Regions from separate parts of the Homo sapiens genome. Here all the other regions are linked to region 2. The links come from fine-mapping of genetic effects on gene expression. A gene starts in region 2. Each other region holds a variant in brackets. All regions are shown on one strand. Distances are between the middles of the regions.

Region 1 (5,157 bases), 27 kb before region 2:
AAAAAAAAAGAAAGGAGAAGCTAGCAGAAGAGAAACAGGGCACCCCTCCCTGGTGCATGAAGCATCCTGGAGCACTTTCATCACAGGTGGTTTTGTAACTTACATCACAGGTATTGCTGTAAGGGCAAGGTTAGAGAGAGTTTGGTTTCCCTTCCCTCACCCTGATCCACCCTATCCATCCAAAAATGCATGTTTGGAAAATGATCCCGAAGAAAGAGAGTGCTTCTCCCTAAGGCCCACAACAGGAGAGCTGGTCTAAGACACTTCTCCACACCTCCTTTAACCTATCAAGTCCCAGTTCCATCCTTTTACTCCAGCAAGAGGGGCAAGGGAGAGGACAAGGGGAAGTGTCCCAAGATAGGTCTCCTTCACTTGGCGGGAACTTTTAACTTCTTCAGTCTTCCCATGAGTGCACCCCTCCTGCTAACTGGGATTCCTTGGCTCACTGGCATTCTGCCTAGAGATCAGAGGATCATTTCTCAAAAGACAGTCAAAAACAGACCTTTGGGAAGGGCAGCATTAAACACAGATGTCTTCATGAAGGCCTCTCCAGAGCCTTTTGCCTTTGAAGAGAAGTGAGGCACGCAGGACTTTCCAAACTTACTGGTCCATGGAATTGTTTTTAGAAGCATCCCGAAAGGCAAACTTTCAGAATTCCATGGACCAATAAAACACGGGAAATGCAGTGTTAGGGTGTGGTAGCAACACTCCGATTATACCCACAATCAAGGTCTGGTCTGAGAGCCACTCTGTCATTTTCAAGGAACTTTAATGTATCTGTTCTCCACCATCATGGGTTGCTTTAATTTGATACACTCTTGGAATGCTGGGAGCACTTGCCTGGAATTTCAGCCTGCCATCACTGTTGGTGACAGCCTCATAAATGGTTTCCCGAAGTCCCATTTGGCTAGTCTAATTTACCCAACCTCCCCATGCACTCTTACCAAACTGGCAGACCCTCACAAGCTCATCTCCTCACCATGCCCCGTTATCAGTAAAGGGAGAAGGAGAGGAGGAGTATTTCTCCCTATAGGACAACGGCCTGAATTCCAACAGCCTCCCCTTCCCCAATTTCTTTCTGCCTTCGTGTGTATAAGTTGCTGCCCTCGTCTTTCGGTTGGAAGTTTCTAACATTTTCTGCAGGAGAGTCACAAAAGCAAGCCTTTAGGCAGCCCCTCCGGAGCCTGGCCCACATTGTCCTTTTCAAGACCTCCAGCTCTGAGTTTGTGACTCCCCACTGTGGCTGCAGCATAAGTTGCCACACAGAGGAGATGCCCACCGAGGGTGGATATTTTGGCCTGATCTCAAACATCTGTCATTTGCTGTTGTAAGATCTGAAAGTCTGGGATGGCCTACATTCCTGATTCTATATTTCAAGTGGAATAGTGTGCAAATGCTCAGTATCCAAAATAAATGGGATATCAGCTTTGTCTCTGGCATTAACCAACTCATTAAATATAAAATAAACACAAGTAAATGGCCTTTAAATCTCACTGACAGAAAGCTTGGCAACTACTCTGAGATTCTAGAGGTCACTGGAACTTCTCTCTTCAAACAGGAATCTTCCTCACACTGTGAGGCACAGAAGGACAGGTCTGCCCAGTGAGGAGGGTTTCTGGGTGCTCCCTTCCACGTGGGTGCTGCCCTGCAGAGCTAGCTACCCCGAGAGCCTGTCCATGGAGAATGATGGTTACTGCCCGGACGGGGCACAGAGAAGTGGCTGTTAGTTCTTACAAGTGGTTAGAAATTCAGGACTAAGGCTTTCACTTGCCACTAATTATAAATACCTAGGAAGAGCCACCAAACCTTGGGTTTCTGATTGCTCCCTACCTATTGGCTATTCCCAGAGAGCCCATATTCACATGGTTTCCTAAATCCTGTGTACACTCACTCTCCCACGGGTCCCCCGGTCCCATTAGTAATGCTACTTGCTGAACACTTCGCTTTGTCTCAATCTATCTGTAGTTTCAACATCAACTGGACTTGTTGGGGAAGGTGATGGCCCAGGTTCTCTGGAAAATTGATGTAATTATTCACCTCATGCCAAGCATGCAGAAAACAAACTGTAATAATTCACCAACCATAAAACAAGCACATG[C/T]ACCTCTTTGCTCAGAACTTTACTTCAGGGCTCAGCTAGATTTCAGCGATTACTGACCTCTTTTATAAAATCAAAGTGAAAAATGTGCAGCTTTTGGTAAAAAGCATGTTGACTTGATAGTCCTTCAAACATGGGTGCTTGCCTGGGAGGCTGTGGGTGAGGAGGTCCATTATGCAGAAGACCCAGCTGTGGTCAGGTGTCAGAATTACTGGCTTTGCCCATTCACCTCAGTCAGCTTTCTTTTTTTTTCCTGTTTCTTTTTTAGAGATAGGGTCTCACTCTATCACTCAGGCTGGAGTGTAGTGGTGCAATCATAACTCACTGCAGCCTCAATCTCCCGCTCCTGGGCTCAACCAATCCTTCTACCTCATCCTCCCGAGTAGCCATAGCCAGGACTGCAGGCACACACCACCACACCGAGTGCATTTTAAAAACATTTTGTAGCGACAGGATCCCATTATATTTTCTGGGCTGGTCTCAAACTCCTGGGCTCAAGCCATTCTCCCACCTTGGCCTCCCAAAGTGCTGGAATTACAGGCATGAGCCCCTGTGCCCAGCCTCAGTCAGCTTTCACAGTCTAACTTTGTGCCAAGAAGTTAGTAAGATCTGAAACTAGTCAAAGTAGCTTCCATTTATTCACAGTTTTAAAAACATTTTTCAAGTTTAGTCAACTTCCCAATATAATCAAAGGACAAAATGGCAATAAAAAATATACTTCATCAGATCTTAGAGTTATACAATCAGTTAAAAAATAGATATTGGGTTTTAAACAACTGACATATGCTTTCCTTTTCCCCCTTTAAAGGTTTTCAGTAGTCTATCTGAAATCACTGAATCACTTTTCTTCTCCTCCACAGAATTCAGAACTTTTTCACCCGGAACTGGAGAAGGAGCACTCCGTCATTAGCTGAGGGGAATGGCAAGGATCCAGGGGTCCTCCATGACTACACAACCATCCTCCTGAGCACCTTTAGGAAATCCAATGCTGTCTGAGAAGCAGCAGGGCCAGATCCAGATCTATGGAAAATTAATATCTGCAGTGCTTCCTGAAGGTCACCTCAGTCTTTATGCCATTTCAAAAGCTAGCCCGGGGCTTGAGAAGAAAAGGGAAGTGGCATTCCAGCCATATTTGGGGTGCAATTTAATTTTCATTGCGTACCTCATGAACAGGGGCAATAACACATTCTAGGATATTCTTCCAGCCCACCCACTCTTCCTCTTTCTCTTCTTCTCTTTCTCTAACGAGTGGTAGTGACAGGATGCAAGTCTGCGCTCTTGGTAGATAAACGGAGAAGCAGGAGAAAGAACTATTCCATAATCAGTTAAACGGGGAGTTTTCAGAATCCTGTCTTGTCATTTAAGTGACTTACTGAAGTCCTACTAAGTTATTGAGACTATATTTCTTTACTTTTTGCACTGGGACATTGAAGCATTGAGACACCAGAAGTCCAAAAGACGAAAAATGTGAAAATCACAAATTTAAAGAAAATGTAGAGGTCTCAGTTCTGAAACACCATGCTTCAAGTGTTGTCATTTTTGAGAACATTTTTAAAAGGCATCTAATATTCCAGGACATACGGTTCCCATTACTGGCCCAGCAGGTACACAGGGTCTCCCACTTTGATGGTCCCTGGGTTTTCCAGCACAAAATACTGCCCAAAGAGTGGTGATTTTCCATATAACTTTCGTTCTGAAGGGTCACACTGGCGATAACTGCAATAGGAAAAGATCATGATGAGTCACAGCCAAGCGGATGCAAGAGCTCAACCAGCACGTGGCTTCCATCCCACACAGGGCCTCCGCACGCACAGCTCGAGAGGGCACCATCCCGTCAAAGCTCAACAGAACAGCGCCTCCTGGAGTGGGGCAGTGAACAGCCTGCCCAGCAAACAACGACAGAAGCATAAGCAATGGCCACATCCCCACATCTTTTCTCTACCTTCATGTTCCCCCTTTCGGCATTAAGACGTTAGATACTTGGCCAGGTGTGGTGGCTCATGCCTGTAATCCCAGCACTTTGGGAGGCCGAGGCTGGCAGATCACAACCAGGATGGAGATCAAGACCATCCTGACTAACACGGTGAAACCTCATCTCTACTAAAAATACAAAAAATTAGCCAGGAGTGGTGGCAGGTGCCTGTAGTCCCAGCTACTCGGGAGGCTGAGGTGGGAGAATGGCATCAACTTGGGAGGCGGAGCTTGCAGTGAGCGGAGATTGTGCCACTGCGCTCCAGCCTGGGCAATGGAGCAAGACTCCGTCTCAAAAAAAAAAAAAATTAGATACTCAATGTGTCTAGACATACTTTATCATCTTCCTTTGCCCTAGGCATCTTTCCTCCTGTCTCCTCCATGTCTGTCACCTGAACCACCATCCTAGCCGTCACTTGGGCTGGGAGCCCATCCTTTACACCACTGTCCTCTCTTCCCACAGCCTGTCCGCAGCTGCCGAGTTCCAAGGTTCTTCCTGTACAACATCATTTGACTTGGCTTGCTTTTCCTCATTCCGACTGTCACGATCTTGCTTCCAGCATGCTCAGACTATCATAATAACTTCTTAACCAACCTCTTTTCCTCATTCTCTACCTGTTTTCAATTCATTGTTGACACTGCACTATATCACTGTTTTAATTGTGTTCTGGTCTTATCATTCCTAGGCTCACAAACCTTCCGTGGCTCTCCAGTGCCTAAAGAATAACATTCCAACTATTCAGCCTGGTATGTAGGGCTCTACCTGGCCCCAGCCTGCTTTTTCAGACCTGTTGCCATCTGCTCCTTACCTGTGCCTCTGCAGCTCTCTGCTGGATTTCACCTTGCTTTGCATTGTACTGACTCGGTAAGTCCTCTGTGATTCCTGTGGGATGCTCCTCCTCCAGGTCCCCATGCTTTAGAATTGTACCTGCCTCAAGGCCCAAATCAAACACCACATCTCCCAGGAAGGAAGCCCAGGTTCCCCCAGCTACGAGTAATTCCCCCTCCTCAATTCTCTTTGCCCCTCCAATACTCACACATCTTGTCCTGTAATGTCAGGGCACAAGTTTGTCTGTTCTACAAGGCAGAGT
Region 2 (5,157 bases):
AACATTCAACACTCAATGCTGCAAAGAACATTCATCCTATTTATGTCCCAGTTCCTTTTGGTAAATACCTTAGAGTAAGCTTGTCCAACCCGTGGCCCAGGACAGCTTTGAATGAGGCCCAACACAAATTCATAAACTTTCTTAAAACATTATGAGATTTTTTTTGTTTTTGTTTTTGTTTTTGCTCATCAGCTGTTGTTAGTGTTAGTGTATTTTATGTGTGGCCCAAGACAATTCTTCTTCCAATGTGGCCCAGGGAAGCCAAAAGATTGGACCCCTCTGGCATTGACTATGCCAGCCTTTCCCCTAGCATACCCCATCCTCACAAGCCGAGTGTCTTTGCCCAGCTTATTCCCTCTCTAGAAAGTTCTTCTCCCAATTTACTTGCCCAGCAAGTTCTGAATCGTTTTCCAGTTTTCAGCTCAAGCTGTTACTTTCTCTCTGATGTTGTCCCTGACGGCCCCAGCCAGCTTCCAGCACTGCATCCTCTATGCTGGCACCCTGGCACGTGTCGCATCCTCTATGCTGGCACCCTGGCACGTGTCACAACCTCTGTTTAGTCTAGTCACAACCTAGGACTGTAAGCCAGTGTTGGCTTCTTTTGATCACACTTTCTGGGAGTGTGTGATGAACGAAAATAAAGAATTTATCATAGTGTCTGGTACAAAGGCCAGCTCTTCTTGTCATCTATTGTAATATGAGCTCAAAAACTGCTTTTTGAATCTAAGTAGTAAAATTCCAGTGCCCTTTGCCTCTGGGGCCTACAAAAACTCTACCACTTTTCAGAGCCTACTATACGAAACATGGATTTTTTTTTTTTTTGAGACTTAGTCTCACTCTGTCGCTCAGACTGGAGTGCAGTGGCGAGATCTCTGCCACAGTGGAGCTCTGCAAGCTCCGCCTCCCGGGTTCACGCCATTCTCCTGCCTCAGTCTCCCGAGTAGCTGGGACTACAGGCGCCCACCACCAAGCCCGGCTAATTTTTTGTATTTTTTAGTAGAGAAGGGGTTTCACCCTGTTAGCCAGGATGGTCTCAATCTCCTGACCTTGTGATCCACCCGCCTCGGCCTCCCAAAGTGCTGGGATTACAGAAGTGAGCCACCGCGCCTGGCCCAAAACATGGAATATTTAGGATTCTTGGCTTCCTTCCTGAAGCAAAGATGCATACGTCACTCACCTTTCAACTATGTCATGAATTGCCCTCTGTCTGGGGAGCTGGTAGGAGAAAGGTTACAGCTCCCATTAGTCCTGTGTTACTTGCTGAACTGCGAGGGCTGCTCTGGAAAGGAGTTTCAAGTGCAGCCTCACAATAAGACCCGAGGCTGGCCTGAAGCCAGACCCTAAAGAGGACAAAGCTGCCGGCTCCCGGGTTTTGCAGCCTTCGCTGAACCCCAGGAATCCACGCAGCTCTCAGAACCCAGACAGGACATTAACAAAGTCACTCTTTACAAAGCCCCAGTGTGCTAAAGAAAATAAGAGTCCTGGTTCTGCTGCTGTGTGGCTCTGAATTCAACTTCTTTATCCACAAGAGTGCTTGAGAGCATTGGAGAGAATTGGGGAAAATAGCATCTGCAATGCCCCCACAACTCTTTCTTTCTTTCTTTCTTTTTTTGATTCGGAGTCTCGCTCTGTTGCCCAGGCTGGAGTGCAGTGGCGCAATCCTGGCTCACTGCAACTTCCACCTCCCGGGTTCAAGCTATTCTCCTGCCTCAGCCTCCTGAGTAGCTGGGATTACAGGTGCGCGCCACTACGCCCGGCTAATTTTTGTTTTTTTGTTTGTTTGTTTGTTTTTAGTAGAGACGCGGTTTCACCATGTTGGTCAGGCTGGTCTCGAACTCCTGACCTCAGGTAATGCACCCGCCTCGGCCTCCCAAAGTGCTGGGATTACAAGCGTGAGCCACCGCGCCCGAAGGTATTCGTTGAACTGCTGTCATTACTATTATGAGCTCCGCCTTGGTGCGCTCTTGGAGGGCTGGACTCTACAGTTCAGCTTTCTCCAAGATCTCAAGAAAGTCACTCAAAATAGCGACTGGGAACCAACCTCTTCAAGCTAGCCGCCTCCACTAAATGGAGATTAAGAAGTTTGCTCACTGGCAGACACCTGGGAGCGATACCACACCTCAGCAGGAGCACATGACGCCAAAGAGCCAGTGGGAGGTGGAGATCCGCCCACCCCGGGAAAACGGGTCCACGCGCTCAGAGTCCCAGAGCCCTGGGGTCTGATGCTGGGGGGTGAGGGTTCCTTTTTCTCTTTGGCCTTGTCTCACCCAACTCCCAGTTTCTTTGTAATAGGAGGAAGGACCTGTTAGCAGACTCTGCAGACCTCCCCTGCGCTCCTCCCTTCTCACCCCCTTGCCCCGAGCCGGATCAGCGCTGCCCCGCGCCGGCGCTTGGCCGTACCTGTCCCGCAGGTTGCCGCTGCGCAGCCCCATGGCCGTGCACTCCGCCTCGCTCACCGGCACCCCCTTGCAGGATTTCACAGGGTAGATCCAGAGCTGCGCCACTGTGCCCACCTGCTGCAGCAGCCGCCGGCGCCGCGTGGGCCATGCGCGGCGCCAGGCGACAGCCCCCAGCGCCACCGCGGTCAGGCCCAGCGCGGCAACCCCGAGCCACCCGGGCCGGGATTGCGCGAGGAGGACAAAGCGCGCCAGCGCGGAGGAGCCGGCGGCGCCCATGGCTGGCTTCTCCGCGAGGTGGCGGCGGCAAGGCCGGAGCGCGCTGGTCGCCCGGGGCCGCTGGGGGAAGGTGCGGCCTTTGGCCCCGAGCCCAAAGGCTGGGCAGCTCCTGAACCCTTCCGGGCCAATCAGAGCAGTGCGTCCTTCTGGGGGGCGGCGCGGGGAGTGGGAGGTGGTGGCTCAGCTTCCACTTGGTCGGCGCCCCACTGCCTCTGCAACCTTCCGTCGCCTGCGCTGCAGGGCGCTGTGCCCTCCCCCACCCCACGATCGCTGCAAGTGACCAATTTATTTACTTACGTATTTATGGGGTTATTTGACCTAAAATAAACAATATACAACATTTGCAGGACAAAGCGTGATTTTGAAATTAGAAATCAGACAGCTGGCAGCAGCCTCTCCTGGGAATAGTGGAGAGCTGGTAGGCCCTGCCTGGCCTGTGCAGTGTCCAGCTCTCTGCTGCCGCCGCCCTCCCCTCAGTCTGCCCAGGGGCTAGGAGCTTCCAGAGAGTGGGGGTCTGATGAAGGAGGATGCTACCAGGCCCTCCGCGCCGGCGAGCCAAGGCCAGAGTTCTCCCGGCGGCCCCTGGGAGCGGCAATGGGCGTCTGAGAGTGCCTTCTACACGGCTCGGGGACGCTCGACTCCTACCGGCGGGGAGCCTCGAGCTGGAGCTGCATTGGCAAGGGCCTTGGCTCAGTTTAACGCTGCACAAGGTCCCCGGGCTGCTTCCGGCGGGAGGGAAAGTCACTTGGTCCTGCAGGCACTCACCTCAGTCACTTGTCACTTCCAAATCAGGTTATATTCCAGACAACAATGTTAGCATACCCCGAACAGCGTGGTTTAGGAGTCAGGCTCCTGCTTGATGTACCAAGCTATTAAAGGAAAAAAATTCCCTCAGACGCTTGTTAAAAAGGTAAGGAAGACTATTCAAGGCTACTGTAACAGGGGCATCACAATAGGGGAAAGAGATTAGGCTCAACTCTGTATTACAGCAAAGACAGCTCAGGATTCATAGCCAAGGAGCGAAGTTCCTCGGGGTCAGTGAATGGAAAATCACTAAGCGGAGACATCAAGTGTAGAGGATTCTTGATAAACCCACTTAACAGGATTCTACTGAACAAGGCAAGGACTTACACACTGAGGGTGACATATGAGGAATCTGAGCAGACATCAAGGGTGATCAGATATTAAGGATGGGAGAATACTCTGGAAACTGACTAAGCAGGATTCTTGCTAAACTGGGCTCTGCAGGGAGTAGGGTGGCAAGGTCAAGGCCTCATGAAGAAAAGGGCACAGGAGAGTCCGAAGTTTGGTCAAGGAGAGTCTGTGTTATCCCCAGCTCAGCCATGGTCCCCTGAGCCAGGAGTGTACATTGCAAGACTCAGCCAGAATTGCCCATGCAGGGCAAGGGTGCATGGATGAGAAGCGGGAGTTCGCCAAGAGAAAAGAACAACACTCTTCCTCCAGCTGGCAACTCACTGCAGAGCAGTTCAGTGCTCAGGGAGGCTCTGTCTTTATTGGCCTGAACACTTATCTGTCCTGTTTTTCTGCTCTATTCTCTTCTCTTCCAACCCCAGGTCACACCTTGTCTGTAAAGGACACAGCTCAGCAGGAGGCACGACTTGATCCTCCTCGGAAAGGCAGTTCCGGGGCACCAAATGTGCGTTTCTGTTTATCTCCCTCCTGAATTCCTCTTTGAAAATTTAAGAGGAAAAAATGGCTTCCCTATTTTAATGGCTGACTTTGAAGTTCTGATTTTTCAATTTCATCACTTCCAGAATTTACCCAGGCCTACAGCTCACTTACCACTTTTACCTCACAGGGTGCGGGGAATGGTGGTGAATTTCAGTCCCAGAACCCAGCAAAGGAAAATGGAGGAGGAGGGAACAGCCACTCCTCACTGACCACTAGGAAGGCCCCTTGCGGACACTGGCCATCCTGCCACAGACAGGCCACCTGTGTGCCTGCAGCTCACAACGCCCTCGCCCCCTGCCAATGACAGAAGCCAGTGTTTGTGGAGTCAGATTGTATCTCTGGAGGCAATCAGAAAGGGTAAGGAAAAATAAATTGCAGTGACTCAAATTCTAATATAAAGAGAAAAACCCAGGAAGAAGACTCATAAATACCAAAGATAAAGCAGGATTGAGATTCACATTTATTATTTACAAAGAAACCATAAAATTGTAAGTAGGTGAATTCATCCACATACTATTTCAGTGAGTATTTTTGCTTAAGATCATACCAAAGTTGTTCGTTTCTTTGTTACGAAAAAATTATTTGCACTGAAAAAAATATGTTCATGCTGTCTTCCTTGCATTCCTACTCTCAAAATTCCATTCTCTTTTAAATGTCATCCTCTTCCTTATCTTACTTGGAATTCCAGGTGGTATATCTGGCAGTTACACACAAACAGATTACTTTTATGTGGCTTAGTAAAGGTGTAATAGAGTACTAAAACTAAGTCTATAAGAGAATTTCCATACTC
Region 3 (5,114 bases), 82 kb before region 2:
CACTGTGTTCACTGTGTTATTTTCAATAAATTCCTCTTCTTAATGCTTTCAACATAAGTTCCATTATGAAAGCAGTTTGGTGTCTCTTTGTTTGTGGAGATAGAGTCTCACTCCGTCGCCCAGGCTGGAGTGCAGTGGCATGATCTTGGCTCACTGCAACCTCTGCCTCCCAGGTTCAATCGATTCTCCTGCCTCAGCCTCCCGAGTAGCTGGGGTTACAGGCGCCTGCCACCATGCCTGACTAATTTTTGTATTTTTAGTAGAGACGGGGCTTCACCATGTTGGCCAGGCTGGTCTTGAACTCCTGACTTCAAATAATCCACCCACCTCGGCCTCCCAAAGTGCTGGGATTATAGGCATGAGCCACGGCACCCGGCCAGCAGTTTGATTTTTTAAAGCAGGAATACCTCAGTAGACTTGTTATGTTGGATGTTACTTAAGAAATAGAGAAAAATTTGGGTGTTTACAGAGCTATCATGTGAACGATGTAATATTAATCCTATGGCTGGAGACAGTAATGGGGAATAGGTCTTGGAGAGACTGGGGGATTCTCAAACCCAAATCCAGACCTAACAACTGTCTATAATCCCAGTGGAAAAGTGAGGCATCCAAAGAAGCCCACATGGCTGCATAGGGGGCTCTTCAATAGGCTTCAATCTTTAAAAAAGCAAAACCGGAGTTTACAAAGACAAAGTCAAGAGAGTGGCAGGAACCTCTAAGTGTACTTGCAGAATGCCTAGAGCCCATAGTGAAGTTAGACTTGTAAAGTATGTGATTGGTAGCAAATGGGACTTTTAAATCTGTGCCTACACAGAAGGATGAAAAAGTACCAGGTTTCAGTGAAAATGATGCGATCGCTGATAACAGAGAGAAATAAGAATTATCCAACTCTTAGTTTACTTAGATCTTCTTATTCAGGGAGAATGTTTTTGAAATTATAAATAATTTTTAAACAATGAAGGTAAATTTGAAATTTCACTATAGTACATGCTTTTACTATTCCCTCTTCCTTGAAAGAACTTTTTTGAAAAAGCAGTTGCTTTAAATTAGTTTAGTCCTTGAGAGCTCTGGTTTACTACTTTTTAATCCCAAAGTACTAAAAAACTTTCTGATGTGATCTTAGATTCACTGTTAACTATATCTTTGGGAATTTGTGAGGAATAAGAGAGATGCCAAAACCTAGAGCCAAAAAATAGGCCTAATTTTAAAGGGGTTTTAAACTTCAGATTAGTAAATATATTGTTCCCTGGAAATTTTGGACTGGAGTATCAAGTACATTAATTGTCTGCTTTTTGAAAGGTTTATAGGATTCCACTGAAGCAATACAGATTGTTTTTAAATAACAAGTTATGTTAAATTAATAACTTTTTTTCTAAAAAGTTTATTAAGTTCATTAATTCATTCATTACATTCACAAATAATGTATTGAGCCAGGTACTATATGCCAGGAGTTCATCTAGATACTGGCAACCGAGTAAAACAAAACAAAACTTCTGGCTTTCAAGAAGCATGCATTCTAGTGGTGAAGCAGGCAAAAAGTGGCTAGATATGTGTTAATAGGGAAAAAATGCTGGGAGAAAAATAAAGCAGGATAAGAGAATTAAGAAGTAAGAGTAATAACACTTGAAAACTGCATTTTGACATAAGCAAAACACTTAACAGTGGCTGCATATTAGACTTTAGGAGAAGATGATGAAATATGGATTAATGATGTGACGCTCATTGATTGAATGCTTCAACCTTGACACCCGGTAACTGACATGAACCCAGAGGGGTTGGTTCAATCTGAGGAATATGCCTCAAACTGTTGCTGGTCCACTCTTGGGCAACACTGGTGTCTACAATTTAGATGGAGATGTAGAAGGTATTAATATCATATACCAAGTATGCAGTGCAACAAAGCTAGGAAGAATAATGGGACAAAGCCAATGGACAAAACAAATCCAGTCCTCTATAAAAGCAACAAGAACACTGGAAGTAGAGTCAGGAATCAACTTTTTCAGAACTCTGGAAATTAACCAAAACCTCGTAACAATTTGAAAAGTGTTTGTTCGAGAAAAATGGCAGAATCTTGGTAAAAGTGATAAGATTTGTAGCATTTTCACCTGCTGTATTCTGATTTCTGTCTCCTCAGTTTTAGTGATAGCTCTGAAAGCCAACAGCTTCACCGTCATGGTATCATGAAAATCTGAAAGCCAACAGCTTCACCATCGTGGTCTTATGAAAACCAGCAGCCTAGCAGTAACTAGAGCCGGGAGATGGGGGTGAGGGGGATAGTTTTGGAGGTACCCAAAAGTCTCATCCCCAGAGAATTGTCCGTCTTTGATCTCTCTGGCAGCTCTCTGAAGACCCTCACTTGCAGGACTGACTTTTATTTCACCTAACTCAGAGCCTAGGGGCATTGGTCAAAATAATGAGCAATGATTTTCACATTGCAGCTGCCTGTGGCTGCAATAACAGTTGAGGACAAACAAGAAGTTGACAAAAAAGTTAAAAAGATAGGCTGGAGAATAAACTGTCCCGAGGAGGCTTTGTAAAATTCTGACATATTCATTGGAATTTAGAAGATGATGTACATATGCAGAGCTGTGCAGATGCCACCCAAAACCTAAAGAGGCCCTAATCACTCACCTCTGACTGAAATTGAGGCTATGCAAAGGCACACAATAAAGGCTAACATTTACTTGTAATCTGCTTGCAAGACCATTAAAGTTGCACTCCGAACACATACACAGAGTCTCTTGACAAAGGTGGTAAGAGTTAT[TG/G]ATGCAAGACACATAAGGAAATCTCTGTCCAATAATTTGTTGAATGGTAAGCTAACCAAACAGAGACCTCAGTGGCTACATGTGAAAAAGAACAGTGACTTTATACGACTAGCTCAGAGAAGTCACTAAACAAACAACTACAATAACAAATAATAAATATAACAAACCCTGTTGAGGGGAGGGATCTGCTTTCCAGAGTTGTCACGTTATATTGTTTAAAATGTTGAGTTAAATACACACACACACACACACACACACACACACACACACACACACGGCATGGTGAAGTGTGCCTGCAGTCCCAGCTACTTGGGAGACTGAGGTGAGAGGGAGGATCCCTTGAGGCCAGGAGTTTGAGACTAGCCTGGGCAACACAACAAGATACCATCTCTAAAACAAACAAATGCTACAAGACATACAAACAGGCCAGGCGCGGTGGCTCACCCCTGTAATCCCAACACTTTGGGAGGCCAAGGCAGGTGGATCACAAGGTCAGGAGATCGAGGCCATCCTGGCTAACACGGTGAAACCCCATCTTTACTAAAAATCCAAAAAAAAAAAAAAAATTAGCTGGGTGTGGTGGCGGGTGCCTATAGTCCCAGCTACTCAGGAGGCTGAGGCAGGAGAATTGCTTGAACCCGGGAGGCGGAGCTTACAGTGAGCTGAGATCGCGCCGCTGCACTCCAGCCTGGGCGACAGAGCGAGATTCCATCTCAAAAAAAAAAAAAAAACATACAAAGAAACAGGAAATTATGCCCCATACTCAAGAAAATAAAGTAGTCAATAGAAACTGTCCCAGAGAAAGTCCACACATTGGACTTACTATGAAAAGTCTTAAAATCAGCTATTATAAATATGTTCAAAGAACTAAAGGAAAATGTGAGAATGATGTATCACCAAATAAAGAATGTCAATAAAGAAATAGGAATTATTTAAAAGAACCAAATAGAAATTCTGGAGTCAAAAAGTACAATGACTAAAATAAAATATTCACTAGAGGAGCTCAATAGCAGATTTGAGCTGGCAGAAAAAAAAAAACAGTGGATTTATAGATGGGTCAGTAGATGTTATCCAGTCTGCAGAACAGAAATAAAAATTAATGAAGAGAAATGAGCAGGAACTCAAAGACTTATGGGACATCACCAATTGCACCAACATGTGCATAATGAGGGTCCGAGAAGGAAAGGAAAGAAATGGCACAAAGAATATTTGAAGAAAAACGACAGAAAACTTCTCAAATTTGATTTTAGGAAAAAACATTTATCCACACAGCCAATGTAGCTGAAGCTCAATGAAGTATAAGAGACCTGTACCTAGACATATCATAATTAAACTGTTGAGAGACAAAGACATTCTTGAAGACAGCAAGTAAGAAGCAACTTATCACATATAAAGAATTCTCAATCAGATAAACAGCAAATTTCTTATTTCTCTTAGAAACCATGGAGGCCAGAAGACAATGGGATGGCATATTTAATGTGTAGAAAGAAAAACTTGTCAAAAAAATCATACTGTAGACACCAAAAATATCCCTCAAAAACGAAATAGAAATTAAAACTTTCCTAAGTCAACAAAAACTGAGAGAATCATCACTAGCAGACATGCCCTACAAAAAAAAAATAGTAAAGGGAGTTCTTAAAGCTGAAATAAAATGACACTAGATGGTAACTAGAATTCACGTGAAAAAAATAAAAAGCACTGGTAAAGGCAACTACATAAGTAAAAATAAAAGACAATATAAATGTAATTTTGGTTTGTAATTCTTCTATATTACTTAAAAGATTACTGCATAAAGCAATAATCATAAAATTGTGTTGAGGGGCTTATGATATATAGAGATGTAATTTGTATGATGATAATGCCACAAAGGAGAGCTATATAGGAGTAAAGTTTTGGTACACTATTGAAAATTGAGTTAATATTACTTCAAATTAGATTGTTACAAGATGCTAATTGTAATCAAATATACATATGAAATACATGATAATATAACTAGGATGGTACACTAGAAAATATCTAAAACAAAATAATACACTAATGGAGGAACAGAGGAACAAAAACATGAGACATGTAGAAAACAACAAAATGGCAGGTATAAATCTTAGTTACATTAAATGTAAATGGATTAAATACTCCAATAAAGAAGTAAAAATTGGCACAATGGATTTTAAAAAATTGATCCAACTATGCTATCTACAAAAGACACACTTGAGTTTTAAAGACACAAAAAGATTGAAAGTAAAAATGGGAAAAGCTATAGCATGAAAACAATATTGAGAGAGATGTAGTGGCTATATTAACATTACACAAAATAGAAGTTAAAACAAAAATTATTACTAGAGCCAAAGT
Region 4 (5,157 bases), 49 kb before region 2:
ATCGCAAATACCATCCTTGGCCTTCTCCGGTGACATACTAACACTCACTGGGGTTAGTTTCCTGGACTGTAAGATGTTCCTAGTTCCTATCTCGTTCAAACTATTTTCCCAGCATCTAGCAAGGTGCCTGGTGCACAGGCAAGTATGTGTTTTATGAATGAATCAACTAAAAACCTGAGTCTAAATGGCATCTTGAAAGGGACTCCACATTTTGTTTCCTTTCTTCCACCACCTCCTATTTTTGGGACACCAGTGGCAAATATTTAACTTAATCATATTTTTCTGTCCATGTCATATCATCATCATCATCCCTTGCAAGGCTCCTTTCTTATGTTATTTTACTTTATTATTTTCTCCTTTTATTCTTCCAGCCTGACTTTCATTCATTTCTCTCCCATAAGCACCCACTCCTGGGTATCTACTTTATGTTCTTAGTTAGGTCCATACCTGTAAATATGATGATATTATTGCATATATGTGATTAATGTACACAAATCGTATTTATCTGTGGATCTCGTTATATTCATTACTTTTTCATGCAAAAATATATTTTTGAGATTTAGTCATGTTGTCCTTTCAAGATTGATTGATAAATAAGATAGATGACAGATAAATAATTTAAAAATTCTGACTCTGCATTGTATTCCATTATTTGTGTCTGACATAACTATTCGTTCCTTGGGAAGAGATTTATGGTTGCCTTTAACTCCTCACTATTTCGATTGCCTCTACTAAACAATCCTTTCCCCATGGATTTTGTTGGTAACTTATAATTTTGATACAATTTCAAATTTAAAGAAAAATTGAAAGAATAGTGCAGGAAATGCCCATATACTCTTTACCTAGATTTATTAATCATTTCATATTTTGCCCCATTTGCTTCCTTACTTCCTATTTCTATCTATTTATATGTAGGCATTTTTAATCATTTGAGAGTAAGCTGGAGATATCAGCCCCTTTATCCCTAAATATTTCAATGTTTATTTCCTTAAAAACACAAACATTCTTTTATATGTCACAGTTCCATTATCAAAATCTGGATATTTAACACTGACATAATACAATATGATTATGTAATCTACATTGCATATTCAAATGGTAACATTTGTCCCAGTACTGGGCACAGAGCTATTCTGCTCTCCCAAACCAGTATCCAGTCCAGGATCATGCACTGTGCTGTGTTGGCTTATCTCTTTAACCTCCTTTAATTTGGAACAGTTTCTCAGCCTTTTTTCTTAACCTTGACTTTTCTGAAGAGGACATATCAGTTATTTTGTAGAATATTCCTCAATTTGGGTTTGTCTAAAGCTTCTTGATGTAAGGTGAAAACTGCCATATTTCTCCACTGTAAGGGTAGTATTTTCACCTTCGTAACTAATAAGTAATATTTTGCAAGATCCTTTGAGACAATGTAAATGTTCTTTTCTTCCCTAAATTTTCACTTTTCAGTTTTAGCACCCATTGATAATTTTCTAACTCCAACATTCCTTCTGCTGTAAGGAAGAGCTTGTTCTTTACCCGTATTTATTTATTTATTCATTGACTGACAATATCAATATGGATCAATGGATTTTCATTTTGTCAAATGAGTTTAATTTATTACTATTCAATTATAAAATTATAATAGATTTGGCCTGTGACAGCCACTTCAGGCTAGCTCCAATATGGTTTTAACATATCCTCGTTACTGGACAAGCACTTCCTGACTTTCCAGCACAAACAAGATGTTCTAGGCTCATTGTTGACTTCTGCCCCAGCCCTGGAATCAGCCTTTTCTCCAAAGAACGCTGATTTCTTTTAATGGAAGGTGGTATTTAGAAACCAGGATCTGGGCATTAGATAGAACCATTGCCGCCGATGTGGCATGGCTTTTAGGTCTTTTCAGGTGACAATGGCTAGGAAATATATATAATATATCATGTATTTTATTATACTGATGTTCAGACTGATACCCCTAATCTCAATTCAACAACACAGAGTACATTCTACTCATCCTTCTTGCTGTGTTTGTAACTCCAACAATGGGAAATCTGGCTCCCATTATCCTCAATATTTTTACTCTTTTGCTAACCATTACTACTTCAACAAGCAAACTTCATAATAAGTTTAATGTTTGCTTACAGTTCTTCTTCATATACAATCTTCAGAAGTGAAATGCACAGATTTTAACTGCAGTTTGATGAGTAGTGGTAAATGAAATCACCCATCTAACCACACAGCTATCAAGATATAAAGCATTTCCATGATCCCAGAAAGTTCTTTTGTCAACCACCTTCCCACCAGCAGCCATTTCTTATATTTTATTTTTTTCACCATAGATTTTTGTCTGTTTTCCTGTTCTTGGCCTCATATAAATGGGATCATAAAGTATCTACTCCCTTTTGTTTTGCCTCTTGCTCAGCATGTCTGAGACATTGATCCATGCTGTTGTGTGTTCTAACAGTTCTTTCCTTTGTATTGTTCAGTAGTATACCATTGTATGACTATACCACATTGATCTATCTATTCTTCTATTCATAGACATTGGTTTCCAGTT[A/G]TTGTCTATTATGAATAAAGTTGCTATAAACATTCTTGTAAAGTCTTTTTGTGGACATATGTTTCACTTCATTAATCTTCCAAAATAACCAATTTTTGATTTTGTTAGTTGTCTCTATTATTTTTCTATTTTGTATGTGATTGATTTCTTCTCTTATCCCTAGCATTTCTTTCTTTATATTTACTGTGGGTTTAATTGCTCTTCTTCTTCTAGTTTCATAAAGTAGAAACTTGGGTTTTATATGGCCTCCCAACGGGCTGGGATTACAGGCATGAGCCACCGCACCCGAATGACTGAATATTTTTTAGCATTCCATTTTATCGCCTCTACTGGCTACTTAGCTTTACCTCTTCGCATTTTTTGTTTAGCAGTTGTTCTAGGGATTGTATATGCATCCTTAACTTATTACTTAGAGCTAATATTGCCTGAAATATAAGAGCATATTGCAACAGTATAATTCCATTTGTCCACTCCCAGCCTTTGTGCTATTGTTACATACATATTATATCTCAATACATTATAAACCCCAAAGAGAGTACTCTAATTTTTGCTTTAAACACTCATATATTTTAAAGAAATGGAAGGAAGAAAAAATACTTTCATCCCACTGAACTCTCTATTTCAACTATTATATTTTTTCTACCCTGTATTTCCATTTGGCTCCTATTCATAATTTATATCTGCTTCTTGTTTCCAACATCCTTTATTAGAATTTTGAAAATACTTATTACATTTATTTATATTCCTGTTCTTCCCAGACCCTTAACTCTGCTTCCTCTGGTATATGTTGTTCAGTTTTTGGCCTTTCTTTACTGATGTTTGTGTTCCTCAGAATTCTCTTTTTTTTTTTTTTTCTTCTGAAATCCTATCAGCTACCATTACTGTTCGTATATACCTTGGAGGAGAGTCAAATGCCTAGATTGTATAGACTCCAAGTGAGTTGGGAAAGGGGCACGCTTCTAAGCACTTCAGGATGATGTTGCATTCTGCTATAATTCCTAGGTATGTAGTAATGCCCAGAACCTCCACTCAGGCACTGCTCTTTTCAGAGGCTGTCTTTCTCTGTGGTAATCTCTAAGCCCAAAGCATCAGCAGGACATTGCTATCATATTGCATATTGCTCTTATATTTCATGCAATATTAGCTCTAAGTGATAAGTTAAGGATGCATATGCAATCCCTAGAACAATTGCTAAAAAAAAAATGGAAAGAGGTAAGTAACCAGTAGAGGAGGTAAAATGGAATGTTAAAAAGGTTTTGGTAAGGGAATCCTCAGAGTGGCCTGTCCAGCAAATCTCTATTGACTATCCTGGTCAGGATCTAGGATCTTATTCTGTTGCCTTTGAGAGGCATAACTATTTTCCTGTCCTATAGGGTCAATGTGGTGGGCAGTGATCCATCCAGATAAATATGAAGGAAAGAAAGAAACCAACTGGCAAGCACTTTCCAGGCATAACTCCAGTATGTTAGTCAAGGTTCTCCAGAGAAACAAAACCAACAGGAGACTAATTGGCTCACAGGATTATGGGGGCTGGCCAAGAAGTCTCAAGGTCAGTAGTCAGCAACTTGAAGACCCAGGAGAGCCGAAGTGTCATTCCAATCTGAGTCCAAACACCTAAGAAACAGGAGAGCTGATGGCGTAAATTCCAGTCCAAAAGGTGGCAGGCTCAAAGCCCAGGAAGAGCTGATGTTTTAGTTCAAATCCAAAGGTAGAAAAAGACCGATGTTCCTGCTCAAATAGTCCGGCAGAAGAATTTTCCTCTTTCTCAGTCTTCAGTTCTAGCCAAGCCTTCAACTGATTAGATGAGGCCCACCCATATTAGGAAAGGCAATCTGCATTACTCAGTCTACCAATTCAAATGCCAACCTTATCCAGAAACAACCTCACAGACAAACCCAGGATAATGTTTGATCAAATGTCAGGGCATCCTTGGTCCAGTCAAGCTGACATAAAATTACTCATCACACCCAAAGTGTCTGTGACATTTTGCCCTCCCCCAGTCTCACCCTTACCATGTCTCCCACCCTCACCATGAAAATCTCTACAGCTTTTCTCTTCATTTTCAGGATCTGGCAACTTCCTCTCACTTCAAGATTGGGCTTTGGGAGGAAGCCAATATCCTGTGCTAGCTCACCACCTTTTTTGAAACTGGAAGCTTTCAAAGCATTTAATTTCTACCTGACATAGGAAACTCCTAATTGTAAGATTACTCTAAGACATTTCTTTAAAAGGTACAGAAGACTCATTAGCAGTTTTCCAACTTCTCTAACCTGAAAGAAGTATGAGAGGAAAGCACCGACTTGTTATTAATCAAGCTGTGTCTGCCTGGTTTTCTGTGGATGTGTTTTGTTTTTAATAAATGACTGCTGATAGTTGAAATTCAATATACTAGCCATAAAAGAAATGTGACAGGTCATGGGCCAAAAGAAGTTAACTGTAGGAAGTGGAAATTTTGAATAAGACAATGAGATTCAGTGAGTGATAAATATAGTGTATCATGTGAGCTTTTAGTCCCAGAAGAAAATAATTTTATAGACTTAAAGTTATTGATGGTGCCAGATTTCCCTTCCCCTGAGGGAGCATTTCCTAGCCTTTCATCCAAACCTTCCCTTACTCCACAC

Direction of the effects. Alleles are on the strand shown, and positions count from the first base shown. SD is a standard deviation of normalised expression in the study named. Not every link is listed here.
With allele T in place of C in region 1, the expression in monocytes of the gene that starts at base 2,707 in region 2 is higher (small effect, 0.40 SD a copy in CEDAR).

Evidence for each region. PIP is the estimated chance that this variant, and not a neighbour inherited with it, causes the effect. A credible set is the group of variants that fine-mapping cannot tell apart.
Region 1: its variant is the best candidate, but not a certain one, in a credible set for the expression of MTARC1 in monocytes (CEDAR, PIP 0.54).
Region 3: its variant is the best candidate, but not a certain one, in a credible set for the expression of MTARC1 in whole blood (INTERVAL, PIP 0.53).
Region 4: its variant is the best candidate, but not a certain one, in a credible set for the expression of MTARC1 in whole blood (INTERVAL, PIP 0.70).

What each region holds. Positions count from the first base shown.
Region 1 is chr1:220,811,946-220,817,102 of GRCh38, reverse strand. It overlaps MTARC1 (mitochondrial amidoxime reducing component 1), which reads right to left. Exons shown (of 7, transcript NM_022746.4): 7 at 1-3,811. The coding sequence ends at 3,685. Among named protein-coding and RNA genes, the nearest start is that of LINC01352, 15 kb to the left of the region's middle. RefSeq lists an enhancer at 3,187-4,386. The variant C/T (reference allele first, on the strand shown) is at 2,099.
Region 2 is chr1:220,784,463-220,789,619 of GRCh38, reverse strand. MTARC1 (mitochondrial amidoxime reducing component 1) reads right to left here and starts at 2,707. Exons shown (of 7, transcript NM_022746.4): 1 at 2,401-2,707. The coding sequence starts at 2,675. It overlaps MTARC2 (mitochondrial amidoxime reducing component 2), which reads right to left. Exons shown (of 8, transcript NM_017898.5): 8 at 4,805-5,157.
Region 3 is chr1:220,866,390-220,871,503 of GRCh38, reverse strand. The region is part of intron 1 of HLX-AS1 (HLX antisense RNA 1); the gene reads left to right. Among named protein-coding and RNA genes, the nearest start is that of HLX, 10 kb to the left of the region's middle. The variant TG/G (reference allele first, on the strand shown) is at 2,765.
Region 4 is chr1:220,833,545-220,838,701 of GRCh38, reverse strand. All of the region lies in intron 1 of HLX-AS1 (HLX antisense RNA 1), which reads left to right. Among named protein-coding and RNA genes, the nearest start is that of LINC01352, 6.9 kb to the right of the region's middle. The variant A/G (reference allele first, on the strand shown) is at 2,537.